Homo sapiens: one gene and its partners. The protein of the gene in region 1 purifies or fractionates together with the protein of each later gene. This does not show direct contact. Each region holds a gene or a part of one and is shown in the gene's direction. Other genes may lie near its edges.

Region 1 (7,037 bases):
ATGTTAATTAGAAACGCTGTGGAGAGTAACACCTTGGGATAGAGGGGATAGGGTGTGTCAGGAATGGGTGGGGTGGGAGCAGGGGAGGTCTTCATATAAGGTGTTAAGGGGAACCCTCTGGTGACAACACATGTGATCTGAGACCTGAAGTCTCAGATGAGGGAGGAAGCCATCATGGATCTGGTGCAAGAGTATTCTGGGCAGAGAAAGCAGCAAGCACAAAGGACCAAGGCAGCAGAATGCCAGGTGAGCAGGGGGCTTAGCAAACCAGAGAGTAGGAGATGGGTCGGATCATGTAGGGTCTCATTGGCCTTTGGAAGTACTTTAAAATACCCTGACTGAGATGGAGAGCCACTTGGCTGTATACCTGCCATTTACTGCCCCAGATTCACTTGGCCCTTTTCTAGCCTGCTCTGTAGATGTGCCCCAGGAGGGGGCCCTGCACTGACAGGTTGCCTTGCTTTATGGCTGCGGGCCATGGGAAGTATTGCTGGGGGTGACCGAGAAGGAGAAGAATGAGACCACTGTATTTCTTCCCTCCTGCAGGCTTGTGTGGGGTGGGGTTTCCTTAGACTTAAGGTCACATTTCCTGTCATGTGCCTTCTCTGCGGAGCTCTTTGTCTCCCTCCCTCTCCATCCTTCACACCTTCAGGTCTATGAGGAGTTCAGGTACCCCTGATTTACCAGCTCCAGATACTGCATTTTCTCTTGTGGTTTCCCTACACCTGCCCACATCTTTGTAAATAGTTCCTTTATAAACTCTCCTCAAATCACCCACTTTGTGCCATCTGTTTCCTGCCAGGACTTAGACTGATCCATGATCAGAGAGTTTTGAGCAGGGGAGTGACACAGTCTGACTAGCATTTTAACAGGCTCATTTAGGTTACTGTCAAGAGTAGATGGTGGGGAGTGAGGGTGGATACAGGGAAACCAGTTAGGAGGCTATTGCAGTATCCTGGGAGAGAGGTGACGGTGGCTTAGCTCACAGTGACGGTAGTGGAGGTAATGAGAAATGGTCAGCTCTGGATATTTTTATGAAGGTCTCTACCTTGCTAAGCTGTTTTGTTAATGCAGATGCAGGGAGGGCCTTTCATGACACTAGAGAACAAGACATGGTTGTATTGTTAGTGCCTGCCTTCCTTATTGTGCCATCTGGAATCATCCCATTGCAGACACTCTGATTCAGGCCAGTAGGTTAATACTGATAGTCTCAGAGGTAGCAGCCTTGCCAAAAACAGGTGTTTACAAAAGATACTACTGTTTTTCTTTGAGTTTGTCTTTGAACAGAGGCAAACGCGTCCTCCACTTTAAATGGCATGGTGTCATTGAACCATTGGCATGGTTCATTGTCAATGAAGTGACTTGAACTCTGAGGGGAATATAAGAGAATTATTAGTCTTGATCCCTGCCCTCAAAATTCTTTTATCTTAGAGAGATAAAAAAGAATATGCTGTAAGGCCGAGTGCGGTGGCTCACTCCTGTAATCCCAGCACTTTGGGAGGCTGAGGCTGGCGGATCACTGGAGGTCAGGAGTTTGAGACCAGCCTAGCCAACATGGTGAAACCTCATCTCTACTAAAAAAATACAAAAATTAGCTAGGCGTGGTGGTGTGCACCTGTAATACCAGCTACTCAGGACACTGAGGCAGGTGAATCTCTTTAACCTGGGAGGCGGAGGTTGCAGTGAGCCGAGATTGCACCATTGCACTCAAGCCTGGGTGACAGAGCAAGACTCCATCTCAAAAAAGAAAAAAATAAGAAGAATATGCTATAGGCAGTCACAGAGTGCTAAATTATAACTGCTTTGCACGAGGATTTTGGGGAGTTGAAAAGCCATCTGTGTGGGCTGAGGTGGTCAGGATGACTTCATGGAGAACGTGGAACTGGGTGGGCTGTAAAAAATAGAGTTTGGGGCAGCCATTCAAGGAGGGAGAGCTGTTTTGAGGGAAGACTCAGGCTTGACTGGGGGCGTTAAGATGGCTTACCAGGAACGGAGGGTGCAGGTTGGATGTGGTAGGAAATGAGGTGAGCTGGGCGGGTGGGCCCCTATCAGGGTATTAAGAGGCAGGTGATGTGCTGGCTTCAGGTTCGGGCAGTGGGCCACCACATATCCTAAGGAGGGACCAGCGGAACAGAATCCTGACCTGCTGTTGACTTATTTCAGCTTATAGGATCCAAAATATTAGTAAATGGAGGTGGAACAAATCACTAAATATGATAAAACTTCCCAACTTTTTATGCCTCTGATAGAAGGGACTGGAGCTCTGCTTGGTTAGGTGGTCAGTAGGCTAGCTTTCTGAATCCATTTTATTTTATTGAAATTCAGCATATACCATATTGCCCAAGTGTAAAGTAATCCTGCATATCAAAATTTCCCCATTAAAAAGTCCAAAAGGTTGTTTTTGGTCAAGTTGAAAATACATGTACTTTTAGGTATATAAGTGAAAAATACCTGCTTACAAAATTTACATTTAAATTTGGGTCCATATACCTACTTAAAATCACCTACTTTATAAAGTAACACTAATTTAGAAATGCTGGTTTTCCTCCTCTTCTTATTTATAAAATGTTTCTTTTCAGACTCTTCACATGCATCTTTGACTTCACTATTTTTATCATCACTGGAGCCACTTTTTGAGTCAGCCAATGTGGATTTCCGGACCACATGTTCAGTTCTTGAGATACATCGTTTTTGAATATGAATAAGGTGTTACCACTGAACAGTTTATTCCAAGTTACAAGTATCCACTTGCATAACATTAGACTTTTTTTTTAAGAAAGGGTCTCACTTTGTCGCCCAGGCTGGAGTGCGGTGATGCAATCACCACTCACTGTAGCCTTGACCTCACAGGCCTGCCTTGGCCTACCAAAGTGTTGGGATTACAGACGTGAGCCTAGAATTTTTTTTTTGCAGTGTTTCCAGTTGGTATATATTTGTGGTCACTGCAACTTAACCACTTTATTACTTTTTCAAATGATTTCTATTTTTTTTTAAAGACAGGGTCTCACTCTGTTTCCCAGGCTGGAGTGCAGTGGCATGATCATGGCTCACTGTAGCAACTTTCCAGGCTCAAGTGATCCTTCCACCTCAGCCTCTTGACTAGCTGGAACTACTGGCGTGCGCTACCATGTTCGGCTACTTTTTATATTTTTTTGTAGAGACAGGGTTTCCCTGTGTTGCCCAGGCTGGTCCCGAACTCGAGCTATCCGCCCACCTTGGACTCCCAAAGTACAGGCATGAGCCACCGCGCCCAGCTAAAATGATCTTTAAAACGTTGGTCTACTGGCCAGGCATGGTGACTGATGCCTGTAATCCTGGCACTTTGGAAGGCCAAGTGGGTGGATAGCTTGAGCCCACAAATTCGAGACAGCCTGGGCAACAGGGTGAGACTCCATCTCTAAAAAAAGTAAAAAATGAATAAACAAAATAAAAAGCTGGCCTTACAATGGCAGTTTACACATGGAAGTGTGAGTTTATATCTCCAGGGATAATTACTAAATTTGTGTTTAATTTATCTTGTTTCACTGATTACCATTAGCCAAAGCAGCCTTAACTGAGGTTGTTTTAGGGTATTGTGTCATCCCCAGCTGGTACTTTGTATTCAAAATAAGGAAATTGCAAAACTTCCTACAGCAAGAGGTACTTTGTAAGTATTTGAATATAAAGTGACTTGTATTTTCTGAGAGAGAATTTTTTTTGAAAAGTCTTGCCTTATATTTCATATATTAAATGACTCTTCTACTGCAGCTTCAATGACATGAATCTTAGGCAGCAAATCTACTTTCTGAAACATTCTGTCTCTGGGAGAGGAGGGAGATATAGGAAGCAGAGAAGTGATAGTGCCTGGTATGAAAGTTGGTGCCTCATGAGATTGGCTTTAGATAGAAGCTGTGAAAGAGAAAGTGCCAAATGCATTAGTTGTTGTTTACCACTTACTGAATGGAAACTATTCTCTGCTTTTATTGATTGGATTTCTTTTTTTTTTTCTTTTTTTATTTTTATTTTTTTTGAGACAGAGTTTCGCTCTTGTCGCCCAGGCTGGAGTGCAGTGGTGCGATCTCCACTCACCGTAACCTCCGCCTCCTGGGTTCAAGCGATTCTCCTGCCTCAGGCTCCCAAGTACCTGGGATTACAGGCATGTGCTACCACACCCGGCTAATTTTTGTATTTTAGTAGAGGTGGGGTTTTACCATGTTGACCAGGCTGGTCTCAAACTCCTGACCTCAAATGATCCACCCGCTTCCACCTCCCAAAGTGCTGGGATTACAGGCGTGAGGTACCATGCCTGGCCTAGTGATTGGATTTCTATTGATTAAATGAAAAACTCCATGAAATACCTTTTAAACAGAGCTGTCCAGAATGCAGGCATTTGGTTAGCTCTTCATTTATTTATTGCCATGGCACCTAAGTGTTGGGGACCCTAGTACAGTTACTTGATCCCTGGCCCCTAGAGTCTAACACAATCTCTCCATTACTGAACAATACAAACTAATATACATATAGTTATGTATCACTTAACAGTAGAAATACATTGTCAGTAGGAAATTTCCTTGTCATGTGAACATCATAGAGTGTACTTAACACAAATGTAGATGGCATAGCCTACTACACACCTAGGCTATATGGTATAGCTTGTTGCTCCTAGGCTACAGGCTACAAACCTACACAGTATGTTACTGTACTAAATACTGCAGGCAATTGGAACACAATGGTAAATATTTTTGTATCTAAACATATGTAAATATAGAAAAGGTAAAGTAAAAATATGTTATAAAAGATAAAAAATGATAGACCTATCTAGGGAACTTAGCATGAATGGAGCTTGTGGGCCTGGAAGTTGCTCTGGGTGAGTGAGTGAATGAGTGGTGAATGAATGTGAAGCCCTAGGATATGAGTGTACACTACTGTAGACTTTATAAACACTGTACACTTGTTACTGAGCAGACATTATGAAAAATAAAAATAAACACGGTATGCTTAAGCTACACTAAATTTATTCATACGCTTTTTTCTTTCAATAATAAATTAAACCTAGCTTACTGTAAATTATTTACTTCATGAACTTAAAAAATTTTTTTACAGCTTTTTGACCCTTTTGTAATAACAGTTTAAAACACAAGCACATTGTACTGCTGTACAAAAATATTTTCTGTATATTTTTATTCTGTAAGCTGTTTTCTACTTTAAATTTTTTAACTTTCTTTTTACCTTTTAAACTTCTTTGTTAAAAACCAAGACACAAACGCACACATTAGCCTGGACCTAGACAGGGTCAGGATCATCAGTGTCACTGCCTTCCATCTCCACATTTCATCCCACTGGAAGGCCTTCGGGGACAGTGATAGGCATGGAGCTGTCATCTCCTAGGATAACAGTGCGTTCTTCAGGAATTCCTCCTGAAGGACCTGCCTCAAGCTGTTTTATAGTTAATTTTTTAAATAAGTAGAGTTACACTCTAAAATAATAATATATAGTATAGTAAACATGTGAATTAGTAATGTAGTTGTTTATTATCATTATCAAGTGTTATGTACTGTACATAATTGTATGTGTTATACTTTTATAACACTGACAGTGCAGTAGGTTTATTTACACCAGCATCACCACAGGCATGTGAGTAATGCTTTGTGCTACAACATCATGAAAGCTGTGTTACTAGGCTGTAGGGATTTTTCAGCTCCATCATAGTCTTAACGGGACTGCCGTGGAATATGGGGTACGTTCTTGACCAAAACATCCTTATGTGGCACATTACTATATTAGTTTATATCATATATGTGTGTATAGTTTATAAGTTGATACATACTTAGTTTATATTATATATTTTAAAGATATATGTGTATATTATATATGTATATATTTTATATATATACATGTGTGCATATAAGTGTATGTATGTATATGTACGTATGTATGTATGTATGTATGTATAAAGCCTGACCAGCAAACTTGAAAACATTCTGTACACAGAAACACCTAGCCTGGGGCTGGGTGCAATGGCTCATATCTGTAATCTCTGCACTTTGGGAGGCTGAGGCACGCGAATCTCCTGAGGTTGAGACCAGCCTGGCCAACTTGGTCAAACCCTATCTCTACTAAAAATACAAAAATTAGCCAGGCCTGGTGGCAGGCACCTGTAGTCCCAGCTACTCAGGAGGCTGAGGCAGGAGAATCGCTTGAACCTGAGAGGTGGAGGTTGCAGTGAGCTGAGATCATGCTATTGCACTCCAGCCTGCATGACAAGAGCAAAACTCTGTCTCAAAAAAAAAAAAAAAAAGAAAAAAGAAAAGAAACAACCAAGCCTGGGCTGGGCACCGTGGCTCATGCCCGTGATCCCAGCACTTTGGGAGGCTGAGGCAGGAGGACTGCTTGAAGCCAGGAATTTGAGACCAGCCTGTGCAACATGGTGAGGCCCATCTCTATTATAAGAAAGAAAGAAAGACAGAGAGGGGAGAGAAAGTAAGAAAGAAAAGAAAAGAAACATCTAGCCTGTGCCCTGTCAGGAGCAGGGGTAAACTCAACTCTTGGGTTCCCTTTTTGCCATATCGTGAGTGATCAGTTGCCTCATGATTAGAGAAGGTGAGAGAGGTACTGTTAGGCTTAACATTTGTTAGGTTATACATTAAATAATGGGAGAGCTGGCCTTGGAACCTAACAGTTAGGTATAACATTGTGTTGATGGGAAAACAAATAAGGTCTAAAAACCAATGAACTTTGAGAACACAGCTTCTGCGTATGTTGTGGCCTGCCTATCTAAGTAGGTGTAGGGGATGAGGTATCACAAAACTAAGCACTTTGAAATCCTTTTCCTTTATTTTTCTAAGAAATTTATGGTTAACAAAAGTATAATAATGTAATTAAGAGCCATTTTTCTATAACTGAGAATTAACATTTGCTAACATCTTTTTTTTTTTTTTTTTTTTTGCTTCTGGTTATTTGTTTAAAGGAAAAGCAATTAGAAATATAGCCAAAGCCTCCTTTAACCCTATCCCCAGTTCAGTGTGCCTGCCACCCTTCCCAGAAGCAGCCCTTATCAT
Region 2 (7,376 bases), on another chromosome or scaffold:
CCTAAGCTATTTAATTTTCTATACAGAAAAAGTAATTGAAGCGTATACTTACCATACTTGTCTCCATTTGGAAAGATAAAGCTGATCTTATACACTTCTGAAGCTGTTTTAAAAGATTTAAAAACAGTGACATAAGTTTACTTTTTTTTCGATAGAGGCAAGGTTTCACTACATTGCCCAGGCCAGTCTCAAACTCCTGGGCTCAAGCGATCCTCCCGCCTCAGCCTCCCAAAGTGCTGGGGATGCAAATGTGAGCCACCACACCCAACCAAGTGTAAACATTCTTATGTCATAAGACCTATACCCAATGTGCTTTCAGCACTATCCAAATGGACTTACTTCTCAAGATCACATCATATCATGATTACTTGGTATTTCCATTGTCTAATGTAGGGTCCCGGGGAAATAAACAATTTTGCCTAGATGATCTCTTTTAAAATTTATTTATTATGATAGCTTTATTAATATATAATTCACACACCACAAAATCTACCCTTTAAAAAAATACAATTTGATTTTTTTAGTATATTCAGAGTTGTGCAACTATCATCACAATCTAATTTTAGAATATTTTAATCATCCCAGAAAGAAACTCTGTACACATTAGCAGTTACCCATTATGATTCCCCTCAAACACCCCTCACCCCACAACCCCAAACCCCTGGCAACCACTAATCTACTTTCTGCCTCAGGGATTTGCCTATTCTGGACATTTCTTATAAATGAAATCATATAATATGTGGTCCTTTATGTCTGGCTCGTTTCACTTAATGTTTCCAAGGCTCATCCATGTTGCATCGTGTATCAGTACTTCATTCCTTTTTATAGCCAAGTATATTGTATAAATATGTTGTACAGAAACAGCATATTTTGTTTATTCATTCATCAGTTCATGGACATGTAGGTTGTTTCCAGTTTGAGGCCATTATGAATAATACTGCTATAAACACTGATGTACATTTTCAAAACATACAGCTTCCTAGGAGTAAAAAAAAAATTGGTGTACAGATTTTTGTGTGGATATGTTTTTATTTCTCTTTGGTAGCCCATATGATTTACTGATTGTCCCACAGAGGTAAGGTGGAGTGAGGAATCTTTAAATTGGCAATAGGAAGAAATGGAAAATAAAGATAGCAAGTGGGGAAGGGCTGGTAGGTCCACACAGAATGAGACTGGAATGGAGACCAAGTGAAAAAGGAAGAAAGAGGACCGCAAGACTGAGGGGGACTCTGGGCCTCAGATCCCTGGACACTTACTGGACTAAAACTAGAAACTGTATTTTCCGATACTGAAGAAAACTTATGTAGAGACGGTATGCAGGCCCATCCTTCAGAATCACCTGAGATGCTTCTAAGTTTCTTCTCTCTACCCCACATCTACTGAATCAGTCTTTACGGGTGGGGCAAGGGAATTTAAAAATTAATTTAGGTACCACTTGAGAAAGGCTTGGAGGCTCATCACTGAGGAAACAGAGTTAACACAATAGGTAGAGGACTTAAACTGTAACATCCTCAGAGAGAAAGGGAGAGTATTAGTATCCTTGAAATAGGAACAGGTGATTACAAAAAACAAAAAACAATTAGCAATCCAGGAAATGAATAATATAATTGGTGAAATAAAACTTCTTAGAAGGGATGAAAAGCAGAATAGATACAATTGAAAACAAATTAGTGAACTGGAACATTAGGTTGAAAAATGTGCTTAGAAAGTAGCACAAAGTGTGAGTGAGATGGCTGGAAAAAAAATTTTTTAATTAAAAAAAAAGAAAGTAGCACAAAGAATTTTAAAATGATGGAAAGTGGATCCAAAAGGCTACTGTCAGTCTAATAAGAATTCCAGAGGGAAAGAATAAGGGATATTTGAATAAATAGCCAAATTTTTCTCAGAACTGAAGAAAATGACTGCTTGGACTACAAATGGGAACTAAGCAAAATCCCACACCTAGACAGGTTACAGTACAATTTCATGACATAAAGACCAAAGGCCAGCTAGGCTAGTTAAAAACAAGCAAACAAAAACCAGATTACCTACAATAAACTACAAAGGACTGACATTAGCAACAGTGGATTCTAAAAAAAAATGGCACTATGTCTTTAAAATTCCGAGACAAAATTATTTTCAACCTAATATTCTACATCCAACGAAACTATCAATCTAAAATCATGGAAACTGGCAGGCACGCTGGTAGGATGAATTACTGGCTCATGCCTGGAATCCCAGCACTTCGGGAGGCTGAGGAGGGTGGGTTGCTTGAGCCTAGGAGTTCGAGACCAGCCTGGGCAACATGGTGAAACCCATTCTCCACAAAAAATACAAGAATTAGCTGGGTGTGGTGTTGCATGCTTGTTGTCCATGCTACTTGGGGGCTGAGGTGGGAGGATCGCTTGAGCCCAGGAAGTGAAGGCTGCAGTGAGTCCGATCACACCCTGCCCTCCAGCCTGGGTGAGACAGCAAGACTCTGTCTTAAAAAAATAATAAAATAAAAAAAATTAAGTTTTAAAAATAGAATCTGGTGGCTCATGCCTGTAATCCCAACGCTTTGGGTGGGTGAGGTGGGAGGACTGCTTGAGCCCAGGAGTTTGAGACCAGCCTGGGCAACATAGTGAGATTCCATCTACACCAAAATTAAAAACTCAAAAAGAAAAAAAAAGAATCTGTAACTAAAACTCAGGTAATATCAATATGGAAATGGTGTGGAGGATAGAGAGCAATCTTGCTAGAATTCTGATCTCGTTTAGGGGTTAAATATAGACACTAATTAACACTAAATCTTAGAAAAATCTGAATTTAGTTATGTTTGCTTATTTTTTCCCCATAATTTCTAAGATTTGGTTGTGGATAAAGGGTGAAGTATGGTGGTATACAGAAATTGCCATGTGTGCTCATTAATTAGTTATTTACATGTCTGCAAGATGTGAAATTCCAAGAGAGCAGGGACACAGAGCTACTTTCTTTCTTTTTTATTTTTTAATTTAATTTAATTTAATTTAATTTATTTATTTATTTATTTATTTTTGAGACGGAGTCTCGCTCTGTCGCCCAGGCTGGAGTGCAGTGGCTTGATCTCGTCTCACTGCAACCTCCGCCTCCCGGGTTCACGCCATTCTCCTGCCTCAGCCTCCCAAGTAGCTGGAACTACAGGCGTCAGAGCTACTTTCTAAGTGTTTAACTAATGATAACTAACTAGATTACCAGATCTGCTTGTAGTTTCCCACAGATGCCATGCCGTACTCTGGGTGGAACACCCTTCTCTTCTTTACCTGGTTAACTGCTATTCATCCTCAAGAGTTGGCAAAATAGAGTGTAGTAGTTAGGGGTTCATGCTCTGGCATCGGACTACCTACCTTTGCATCCAGACTCCACCATTTTCTCTGACCTTGGACAAATAATTATCTTATGCCTCAGTTTCCTCATCCTTAGATGGGGCAAATCAAGTAAATGAGCTAATCTAGTTAAAGCACTTAGCCCAGTGTCTAAACTCTGTAAATATTAGCTATTGTATTCTTGTAGCCCCAGCTCAGGTATGAGCTCTCCCACAAAGCCTTTCTTCTCATTACTTGTCAACCTCAGACTCCTTCAGGAACCCCCACGGCACTCTGGGCCTATTCCTACTGTAGTACTTAAGGTTCTATTAAAACCATGCTTTTGTATCGGGATCCCCTATCCCACCCAGTTCCTCCAGGACACGGATGGCAGATTAGTCAAATCTCTTCTCACCCCACTGTCCGACTCCGTGTTTAGTACTAATAGTAACAGAACGTCTAGTGAATGAAGGGCACTTCGGAAGGAATCGTTAAGTGCCTATGAAGCAGAGCATTAAACGTAATCATATCAGAAACTGGACTGTTTTCAATTGCCGCTAAAATGTTCTACATTCGAAACTTGGGAACGTCAGAGCTAGAGGGAACCTCACAGAGACCACCCGGCACCATAGCGGAAACTGAGGCCCAGGGAGGTTGGCACGCGCCTCGGGTGTCTCAACAGCGAATTAACAACAGAATCAGAGCTAGATTCCCAGACCAGGGGTTCCCCCGTGCCCCTCGGCTAGACGGTCAGGAAATATATCACACCCCCACAGGAGTTACCGGGAGCCAAGCAGGTTCTGACTCCACGCTAGTTCGACTTAAAGGAGCTCTTCTCTGCCCGGGTCGTTAGGAGGAGGGACACTCACTTGGCCGAGAGGTGTTAGAGAGATCTTCCAAACTCTGCGACTCCCCCTGGGCGGCCAGCTCTGCGGCCGGGAGAGAACTAGGCGCTAGGACAGCTCCAGGTGCGACTTGGTTGCTGGGGCGACCGGGCACCTCTCACCCGGAAGCGAATACGCGAGGGGCTGTAGCTGAGCCAATCAGAAGGCGCCGGGACTGTGCCGCTGCAGCTGGGCCACCGCAGGGCTGCTCCAAGTGAGAATCGTGAGGGTGGCCAAGTCCAGTTTGGACCTCTGACCCTTGGGCAGCACCTCCCGACAGCCGGCTCGGGACCCAACTCTGCGAGCCAGGTACGTCTTCCACTTCTGCGGACAAGTGATGCGCGTTGTGCGCACGGTGTGCGCGTCACCCTGTTTGTCAGTGTGTCTGCCGCCTCCTGCTCCAGGAGTGGTCGGGATCTGACGAGCATCGCGGCCCAGTGTGTTTCATCCAGTCTGCCTGGGGCCGGTGAATCTGGACCAGCAGGATCCCAGGCCCTGATACCGAACCAAGGCGGGCTCTGCCGCTGAGGTTGTCCACGCTCAAACTGCAGGTTGGGGCCGGGGGGGGCGGGGCGTGAAATTCAGTCTTGGAGCAGGCTAAGGGGTTGATTGAAGGGATCAGGCTCCGTTCTCTGACTCCGTCTGTGTGGCTTTTTTGGGGAGAAGGGTGGGGACGATGTGAGTTCGAAAAAGGATACGAGATCTGGATATCTGGATGGAGCTGGATATATTGTGATCAGTCAGAGATCTGCCTGGGAGGAGAGTAGTGTGTAGTCACTTTTCAGTGCCTTGGCTATCAAACAAAGAATACTCTTACAGCCAAACTTAGGTCCCTGTATCCATGGTGAAGAAAGATAGTTGGAGTCTTCCCGGGCTAGATGGAATAGATAGTGGAATCTAACCACGTGGATTATACAACCTAATTCCTATTCCCTTGAAAACTCTGGGAGAGTGGTATTGGACACCATTACAGTCAGTAAATCTTCGTTTAAAATGTTAAGCGCATATCTCAGATCTAGTTGTAAAAGTAACATTTTCTGGGTTGGTGTGAGACAACTTGTTTTGATTCAGCGTAAGTATCCTCTTGCTTTTTCCTAATGTTTCTCAGTACACAAATTTACCTGGGCTGCATGGTTTTTGAGATGAAGTTCTAATCTAACTGATTTGTTATTTCATTTCCCTAAATTTTAGAAATAATAGGTAATTATTGGTGCACAACCTTACAGAATTCAGTTTGACCTGTTATTTTTCTTGCCTGTTAAGATTTTAATGACTCTACATTTTTGTGAGTAAAGTTGACGTTTGAACAACATGGGTATGAACTACCCGGCTCCACTTACAGGTGGATTTTTCCCAACCCAACACAGATTGAAAATACAGTATTTCAGGTCGGGCGCGGTGGCTCACGCCTGTAATCCCAGCACTGTGGGAGGCCGAGGCGGGCGGATCACGAGGTCAGGAGATCGAGACCATCCTGGCTAACACGGTGAAACCCTGTCTCTACTAAAAATACAAAAAATTAGCCGGGCATGGTGGCGGGTGCCTGTAGTCCCAGCTACTCAGGAGGCTGAGGCAGGAGAATGGCGTGAACCCGGGAGGTGGAGGTTGCAGTGAGCTGAGACTGCGCCAGTGCACTCCAGCCTGGGCGACAGAGTGAGACTCTGTCTCAAAAAAAAAAAAAAAAAAAAAAAAAATACAGTATTTCAACTAGGCACAGTGGCTCATGCCGGTAATCTCAGCACTTTGGGAGGCCAAGGTGAGACGATTGCTTGAGCTCAGGAGTACGAGACCAGCTTGGGCAGCAAAGCGAAACCTCATTTCTACTAAAAAATGTTTAAAGTAGCTGGGTGTGGTGGTGCACCTGTGGTCCCAGCTATTCAGGAGGCTGAGGCAGGAGGATTGCTTGAGCCTAGGAGATCGAGGCTGCAGTAAGCTATGATCGTACCACTGCACTGCAGCCTGGGTGATAGAGCAAGATCCAGTCTCAAAAAAAAAGAAAGAAAGAAAAAAGAAAAGACAGTATTCCTGGAATGCAAAACCCACATACAGAGGGCCAACTTTTCCTCTATGCAGGTTCTACAGGGCTGACTGGAGAACTTGAGTATCCGTGGATTTTGGTATACATGGGGGTTCTGGAACCAATCCCCTGTGTATACCGAGGGATGACTATTTCATGGCTCATTCTGTCAATTTCTTCCGGATGTCCTTTAAAATCTCAAAGAGGCCTTACCCAACCACTCTATCTAAAATAACTGCCTCGGGGGTTTTTTTTCCTTGATAGCACTTAAGTTATAATATATATCTATTTGTTTAATGTCTGTGTTACCCTCTAGAAGGTAAGCTTCATGAAGCAGAAATTTTGTCTTTTTTGCTGTTATATCCCCAGGATCTGGCACATAATAAGTGCTCAATAAATATTTGTGGAATGAATAAATAGATGAACAAATCTCCATTCCCACATAAGTCATTTTTTCAACCTTCAATCATTCATTCCACAAATAGATACTGAATTCCTACCATATGCTAGACACTGTGTTAAGGGTACAGTGGTAATCAAAATAGACATAGTCTTGTTTTCAAAGAGCTTTCTGGGAGTAGAAAGGAGAGACAAACTTAAGATAAACTCTGAATACATATGTATAATCATCAGCAATTTTGAAGAAAGGAATACCTAGGAAGACCTAGTTTAATATACACATATTTGTGAGTTTCCCAAATTTTTTCTAGCTTTTGATTTCTAATTCCATTTTGGTTGGAGAACATAGTTCATATTATTTCTTTCTTTTTACATTTATTGAGGTTTATGGCTGGGCACAGTGGCTCACGCCTGTAATCCCTGCACTTTGGGAGGCCAAGGTGGACAGATCACCTGAGGTCAGGAATTCGAGACCAGCCTGACCAACATGGTGAAACACCATCTCTACTAAAAATACAAAAATTAGTCAGGGAGCATGGTGGCGGGTGCCTGTAGTCCCAGCTACTCGGGAGGCTGAGGCAGGAGAATCGCTTGAACCTGGGAGGCGGAGGTTGCTGTGAGCCAAGATTGTGCCACTGCACTCCAGCCTGGGCGACAGAGCAAGACTCTGTCTTAAAAAAAAAAAAATGTATTGAGGTTTCTTTTATCACCTAGTATGGTCTATATCCTGGAAAATGTTTCATGTGTACTTCAGAAGTATGTATAGTTCGTTGT
Region 3 (7,037 bases), on another chromosome or scaffold:
TTTTTTACTATTTACAAATGGTAGTTTAATAAATAACCCTGTACGGTAGTGTCCCTTCTTATCCACAGTTCCAGTTATTCAGTCAGTCACGGTCCAAAAATATAAAGTGGAAAATTTCAGAAGCAATTCGTAAGTTTTAAATTCTGTTATGAGTAGCACGATGAAATCTCATGCTGTCCCACCCTGGGCATGACTCATCCCTTCGTCTAGCATGTCCACACAGTAGATAAGTTACTTTGCTTTGTAGCCATCTAGATTATCAGATCAAAAAACATAGTATATAGAGGGTTTAGTCCTCTGCAGTTTCAGGCATCCAGTGGGGATCTTGGACTGTATCTCTTGTGGATAAGGAGGCACCACTGTACATGTCTCATTCACACATAGACATTTTATCTGTGATATAAATTCCTGAAAGCAGAATGACTGTTTCAAAGGGTAATGTGATTTATAATTTTGATAACTATTGCCAGATTGCCCCCCATGTGATTTTCTAATCCAGTAACTTGATTAACTTCATATAAAAACCATATAGTATTTTCTGAGAACTCACTGCCAGCTTTTCTACTGATTGTTTTCAGTAGTATCTCTTAAAAGTTTGGTTCTCAGACCACCTTTGTTGAATAAACCCTTAACAATTTGTGCCAGCCACTGGATAGAGACTGAGCCTTTTGCCTTCCTAGAGCTTACAGTGACACAAGTAAATAAAATGAACATGAAGAAAAATGGCAAGTAGCATTAGCTGTTAAAAAGAAAATAAGGATAATTTGGTAGAGAAAGACTGTTTGTTGGATAGGATGTATTAATTAGAATAGGCCAAACTCTGATATAACAGACCCCCAAAATATGGTAGCTTAAAGAGTACCAAGTTTCCTTCATTTTTGTGCAACAGTCCAGAATAGGTGTTCAGGTTAGTGGCTAGGCCGTCTTCCAGGTCCTGATCTCCTACCATCTTGTGGTTCCACCTTGCCCTAGGGCCTACTTGTCTACTGTGTCCAGCAGGCAGAAGGACTTGGGAGGTATTATCTTGTGTGCCAGGCTAGCAGTGACACAAGCTTTCATTCACATTCCATTGACAGCTTAGACATATGGCCATCAGTAAGTACAAGGGAGGCTGGGAAGTGTTGTGTAGCCATGTGCTCAGGAACGAGAAGAATATTGTGCACAACCAGTAGCTTCTGCCACAGTTGTTGAGGCAGCATCAGCCAGAGTGGTCAGGGAAGGCTCTGGAACTGAAGCGATGAAAAAGAGACATCCAAGCAATAAGAAAATCCAAGAAATAACATTTCTAGGCAGAAGGGAGCAGCGTGTTACTAGTACACTGAGGCATTTGAGAGATTTTGACCCAGGGGAGGAATGGAAGGCAGGTCTTCTTTGTTTGGAACTCAGGTAGCCAGGGATAGGATGGGTGGAGAAAGAGGTTAGAGAAGTGGGCATTGGCCAGATGATGCAGATCGTTGTATCCATTTGGGTTTATTTTGTTTTTCTAAGTGCAGTGAGAAGTCATTAAAGGATTTTAAATAGGGAAGTGATTGGATTTGTGTTAAGAAAAGATTGTTCCTGCTACCCTTTGGAGAAGGGCAAGGATGGAAACAAGGAGTTCATTTAAGGGGCTGTTGTGTTAGCGTAGGCAAGAGATGATGGGGATGAAGAGAAGAGGCCAAATTTGGAATCTGTTTCACAGGTAGACTCATAAGTTCTTGCTCATGGGTTGGACAGAGGCATTGTTGAGCAGCTAGGTAGATAGTAGTCCTTTATTGAAAGAAGAAAGATGGAGAGAGGAAGGACATGAGGGAAAAGTAAAGACTTCCTTTTGGACCTGCCCAGAATACTGTCCAGCCCTTTTCAGGAAATATTTGCTGACCCCTGGCATAAACAGGGCTCCCAAGGAAGGACAGTGGCTAGTGAAATAGATGAACCTATTTAAGGATATAACTTCCTAAAAATTGCAGCTTTCATGATGAAATTTTTTGCCCTTGAATGTATTTGGGATTTTGTGTTATAAAACTGTCTTAACACATTAAAAGTTTCAAAAACCGTTTCCCCCTGATTAATATGATGCTAGTTTGTTAGTGTCATGGCTTTTGATGGAAGATTAAAGCTTGGAAACAGTCCTCTGAAAAATCCTTTTAAAAATCTGTTCTTTCAGGTGCGTCAGCAATTTCCTGCTCCTCTTGGTTGGTCAGGCACTGAAGCTCCTACACAGGTCACTGTTGAAACTCATCCTGTTCAAGAAACAACCTTTCATGTAGCCCCTCAACAGAATGCATTGCATCATCACCATGGTAACAGTTCCCATCACCATCACCACCACCACCACCATCACCACCACCATGGACAACAAGCCTTGGGTAACCGGACCAGGCCAAGGGTCTACAATTCTCCAACGAATAGCTCCTCTACCCAAGATTCTATGGAGGTTGGCCACAGTCACCACTCCATGACATCCCTGTCTTCCTCAACGACTTCTTCCTCGACATCTTCCTCCTCTACTGGTAACCAAGGCAATCAGGCCTACCAGAATCGCCCAGTGGCTGCTAATACCTTGGACTTTGGACAGAATGGAGCTATGGACGTTAATTTGACCGTCTACTCCAATCCCCGCCAAGAGACTGGCATAGCTGGACATCCAACATACCAATTTTCTGCTAATACAGGTCCTGCACATTACATGACTGAAGGACATCTGACAATGAGGCAAGGGGCTGATAGAGAAGAGTCCCCCATGACAGGAGTTTGTGTGCAACAGAGTCCTGTAGCTAGCTCGTGACTACATTGAAACTTGAGTTTGTTTCTTGTGTGTTTTTATAGAAGTGGTGTTTTTTTTCCAAAAACAAAGTGCAAAGCTGCTTGAATCAGGAGGAGATTAACACACTGAACCGCTACAAGAGGGCAAAGCTGATTTTTTTTTTAACTTGAAAAGATTGCAAAGGGACATTGAAGTGTTTAAAAGAGCCATGTCCAAACCCATCTTCATGGATAGCTCAGAGGTATCCTCTTTTTGCTCCCCCATTTTAACTTGCCACATCCCAGTCACAGTGGGGTTTTTTTGTCTTTCTATTCAGCAAAAGTTAATATTCAGATGTTGGTCTTGGTCATTTGCCAACTAATTTTAAAGTAAAAGGCACTGCACATAATTTGCATAAAGGGCCCCATGAGGGTGTTTTTTTTTTTTCTTTTTGTCCCCCCCATCCCCCTTTTTTTTTGTTTTGTTCTGTTTTGTTTTGGGTGGGAGGGTGGGAAATTTGGGTTTTTAAGTCCTCTAAACACACTTGGGCACGGAAATGCAGTACTGTAAGGAAGAGGGACCTCCAGCTTCCACAAACACCATCTTCAGCTGTATGAAAGGGACGGTTGTGGTGAAGTTTGTCAGGCACAGTAAGCATGCTGAGTGGCGGGGATCAGAACTCTCCTATCTGAACCTACTGAGGAGCAAAGCAGCAATTACATGGGATCCTGTGGCTCTCCCGTTGCAGAGGCCACAGGAAGATAGGATGGAACGTGACTGGTCTCCTAACCAAGGTGCACTGAGAAGCAATCAACGGGTCGGTCGTGGCCAGTCCTGGGGAGGTCTGAGTGGTGGTCTTTGGGATAACCTTTGGCCTTATGGATTTGGACTCGAAATTAGAAGAGCCTACCATTTCAGATGCAATCACTTTTGGACATGCTTTTGCAGACAGTCCTTAATGCTGAAAACACAGAGAATGGGTAATTCAAGAGGCCTTTCTTTTAAAATAGACTTTTGTGACCCACTAATTGTAAGGTATTGCAAGGTCACTTTGCGTGTGTCATAAAGTTGACTTCCTTATTGGTTGAAGGTCACAGAAGTAGTGGTTTGCTTTGATGGAAATAGCTACAGCTGTGTCCCTTCCTGCTTTTTACTTTTTCTTTTGCTTTTTCTCGGCACGTGGTATCTCCACCATTTCTTCTGCACAAAGATGTCTTCTGTTCATCCTGAACATTTTTAAAAAATGCAGAATTTTATGTGACTGCTTTTTTGCCTCACAATTATGCTGTGAATTTTACAAAAATTTATTTTCTTTTTTGATAATTTATTGTACCAAAGCTGTTTTTATAGCACATAGATGTCTGTAACCAATAATGTAGCAGTTCTGCACTTTGACACAAGGTGTAACTAGACCATTTTTAAATGTCAGTTGAAAATTATGGCTGTACTATTGCTTAAACAAAACTGGAACTGTTGTTGAATCCATAGCCAATACATTTACAGCAATCTGTGTACTGAACATAGTAGATTGACATCTAATTCAAGATTACAACATCTGTTACATTCTAAGTGTGTTCAGGCTTCTGAAGGTAAAGGGACACTGGATCCAGAAGCTATGGAACCAGCAGTTGATTCTTGTATTCCTGATTAACCTACTTGTAAACTTGAAAGCAAGACCTTGATTGCACCAACAGGTCCAGAGTATGAGTGCAAGCAAAGCAGAACTCTCATGCGTGACCTGAGCAGACAGGCTGGTATTTAACAGGTGCCTCGTGTTGAGATTACGCTGCCTTAATGTAACACAGTCTGGCAGTTGCTAAATTTGTGTTCCCATTTTAAATTGACCAATTTTGGGGTGTGACACTTTTGAGCGGTTGAATTGGGAGAATGAAGATAAGTAATTTACCTGTCCAGGATCAAAAGAAGCCTAGAAAAGAAGCAGTAATCTACCTCTGCCGATAACCTGTTTAAGATGACTCAGCAGAACACCGCGTTTCATTCTATTGGTCAATTCCATGTGGCTGACTAGGTCAATTTTTTTTCTGAACAAAAGCAGGTTTTTATATGTAAACAGTGAGAAAAGAAAGGCTAAACACTATGTAAATGTGAATGGAAACTTGGAAATACTCGTTTTTATAAACTACAAAAACTTTTTGTTGTTTATCAGGAAATCCATATTTATTTTGTAATTAACTGTCAAGCCTGTGGATGATTTTTTTGAACTTGGTAGTTCATAAAGGTTTACAGTGAATAAAAGGATATCATCTTGAGTATAGCAATATCAAAAGGAATTCAGTAGTTACTGCTGTTTAGGAATATAAGGTTAAGATATCATATGGGTCAGGTCATTTTTTTTTTCTGTGCTGGTTGCCACATCTTAGCAAGCACCAAAAAACTAAAGCAGTTTTTAAACCGATATTTACGTAAAGAAAATCATAAAATCCAATGCTTCTGCATACTGTGTTATGTTACAGTCCAGTTTTGTGTGCTTTACTACACAGTTTGGTTACAGGACTTCTGTGCATTGTAAACATAAACAGCATGGAAAAGGTTAAATACCTGTGTTCAGATTGTAAGATCTAGTCCGGACTTGCTGTGTATATTGTAACGTTAAATGAAAAAAGAACCCCCCTTTGTATTATAGTCATGCGGTCTTATGTATGATAAACAGTTGAATAATTTGTCCTCAGACTCTTTACTATGCTTTTTTAAAAATTAATTTAAGAAAAATGTAAACATAGTAAAAATCTTCCTATGCAATTAAACTGGTCCAGGTCTGGTAGGTATAGTATCAAAGTTGAGTTAAATGTGTAAAAAGGAAACTATTTGAGATACATTGACATAGGCATCAGCAATCTCTGAAAGTAAAAATTGGAGGTTTAACAGATCATTTTGATTTTTCACATTGATTTTTTTATTTGAATGTTTACATAATTTTGTGATTCAAAATGCTCATATTTTAGTTGGTAGCATTTCGACTGGATGTGAGGGTCTGATGGTTTTCTCTGATATGCTTTGACGTGCTTGGATGAAGGAAGGAATACGAATACTCATTCTTCCTTCCCTAACTCCTCGTACGGGGCCATATCAGAATTCTAGAATTCTTGCCACTGTGATTCAATTGCTAACCTAAAGTCTTCTCTTTTTACAAATTCACCTGCTTCAGTATATATTAAGGTGGCTTTCGAGAGGCAAGATGCTTATTTAAAAGTTAAGCGTGAATCTGTAAAATTAAGGTTGGTTGCGTAAAGTTGAAGTTAACCACATGTAAGAAAGGAAAACTTCCATTAGTTTTCTTCTTAGGGTGTGAGAATTTTACCTAGGCACATGGATATTGGGCTGAAAAAAAAAAACCGACATTTTTATTTAAAACTACATGTAAAAAATCATGAAAGATTCAGTAATTATGTTAGGCTCACAAGTGACCATTGAGTTTGCCCCTGTACTGCTTCCCAGCTTTTGTGGTGTTGAACTTTTCTGTTCTTCCAATAGGGAGATACATAATCAAAATACACACGAAGACGAGATAGCAGGCACTCAGTTCTAGGCCAGTTTCTCAGTTTCCTTTGGGCCTGCCTTTATTTTGATAGTCGCAGAATGCAGGTTCAGATGCGATCCGGTGCATTCTGGGTGGTATCCCCATAGACAGAATACAAGTTCAAGACTCATTTTTATGTCCATTTTTATAGTGGTAGACTGTATGTAATAGACCAGATGGTTCATTCCAAATACATGACTTGGTCTTACTGCTATATATGAAGGAAGTTTGAAAATGTAATGGGGACAAAAGCCGTGCGTGACTTCGGTATACCCAGACTTCATTCAGATTTCTTAAAAATCTGCTAGGGATGTCTGTTGACCAGACGTTGGAAAACCTTTGGTGTCAGGGAGAGTAGAGGAGAAGTTCTGATTTTCATAACCCTGGTTTCTTATCTAGGCCTGTTTCCTTGCGTGAAAACATACATCACCAAGTAATTTGTAGTACAAAGAACAAGAGAAGAAACCCTAAGAAGATAGCTTATTTGTTATCCTCCCTTTTAATGACTAACCTTAATCCAAATGAATCCACTGAGAACCAGCCTGTGGATGCCTACTGGGCTTTCACCCTGGACCAGGAATTTTTGACGTATGCCTGTGTTGAAGGCACTGGATGCTTGTTTTGTGGAAGACATGTTCATTGAGGTAAGTGGCTCATCGCTTGGTGTGTTTGGCTCTCTTTGGCATTATGCATAGCCAAGGTCCCAGATTTTGGCTGCTCTCAGTGGGTGTTCTTGCATCAGAACTTTAAAAAAAATAACACTACCTTAACACT

The links.
Region 2: the proteins of FNTB (region 1) and DHX57 purify together in Homo sapiens (affinity purification with mass spectrometry, with the first as the bait; 3 studies listed by BioGRID). This does not show direct contact.
Region 3: the proteins of FNTB (region 1) and DYRK1A purify together in Homo sapiens (affinity purification with mass spectrometry; 5 studies listed by BioGRID). This does not show direct contact.

Annotation. Positions count from the first base shown.
Region 1 is NC_000014.9:64,989,864-64,996,900, forward strand, and holds part of FNTB (protein farnesyltransferase subunit beta), read left to right. Parts: intron 1-7,037. UniProt on the Homo sapiens protein: Essential subunit of the farnesyltransferase complex. Catalyzes the transfer of a farnesyl moiety from farnesyl diphosphate to a cysteine at the fourth position from the C-terminus of several proteins having the C-terminal sequence Cys-aliphatic-aliphatic-X.
Region 2 is NC_000002.12:38,872,906-38,880,281, reverse strand, and holds the start of DHX57 (putative ATP-dependent RNA helicase DHX57), read left to right. Parts: upstream 1-4,347; 5' UTR 4,348-4,495; exon of another isoform or gene 4,496-4,737; intron 4,738-7,376. Other genes in the region: MORN2 (MORN repeat-containing protein 2), read right to left, coding at 53-103, 4,172-4,229. UniProt on the Homo sapiens protein: Probable ATP-binding RNA helicase.
Region 3 is NC_000021.9:37,509,765-37,516,801, forward strand, and holds part of DYRK1A (dual specificity tyrosine-phosphorylation-regulated kinase 1A), read left to right. Parts: intron 1-2,146; coding exon 2,147-2,767; 3' UTR 2,768-7,037. UniProt on the Homo sapiens protein: Dual-specificity kinase which possesses both serine/threonine and tyrosine kinase activities. Exhibits a substrate preference for proline at position P+1 and arginine at position P-3.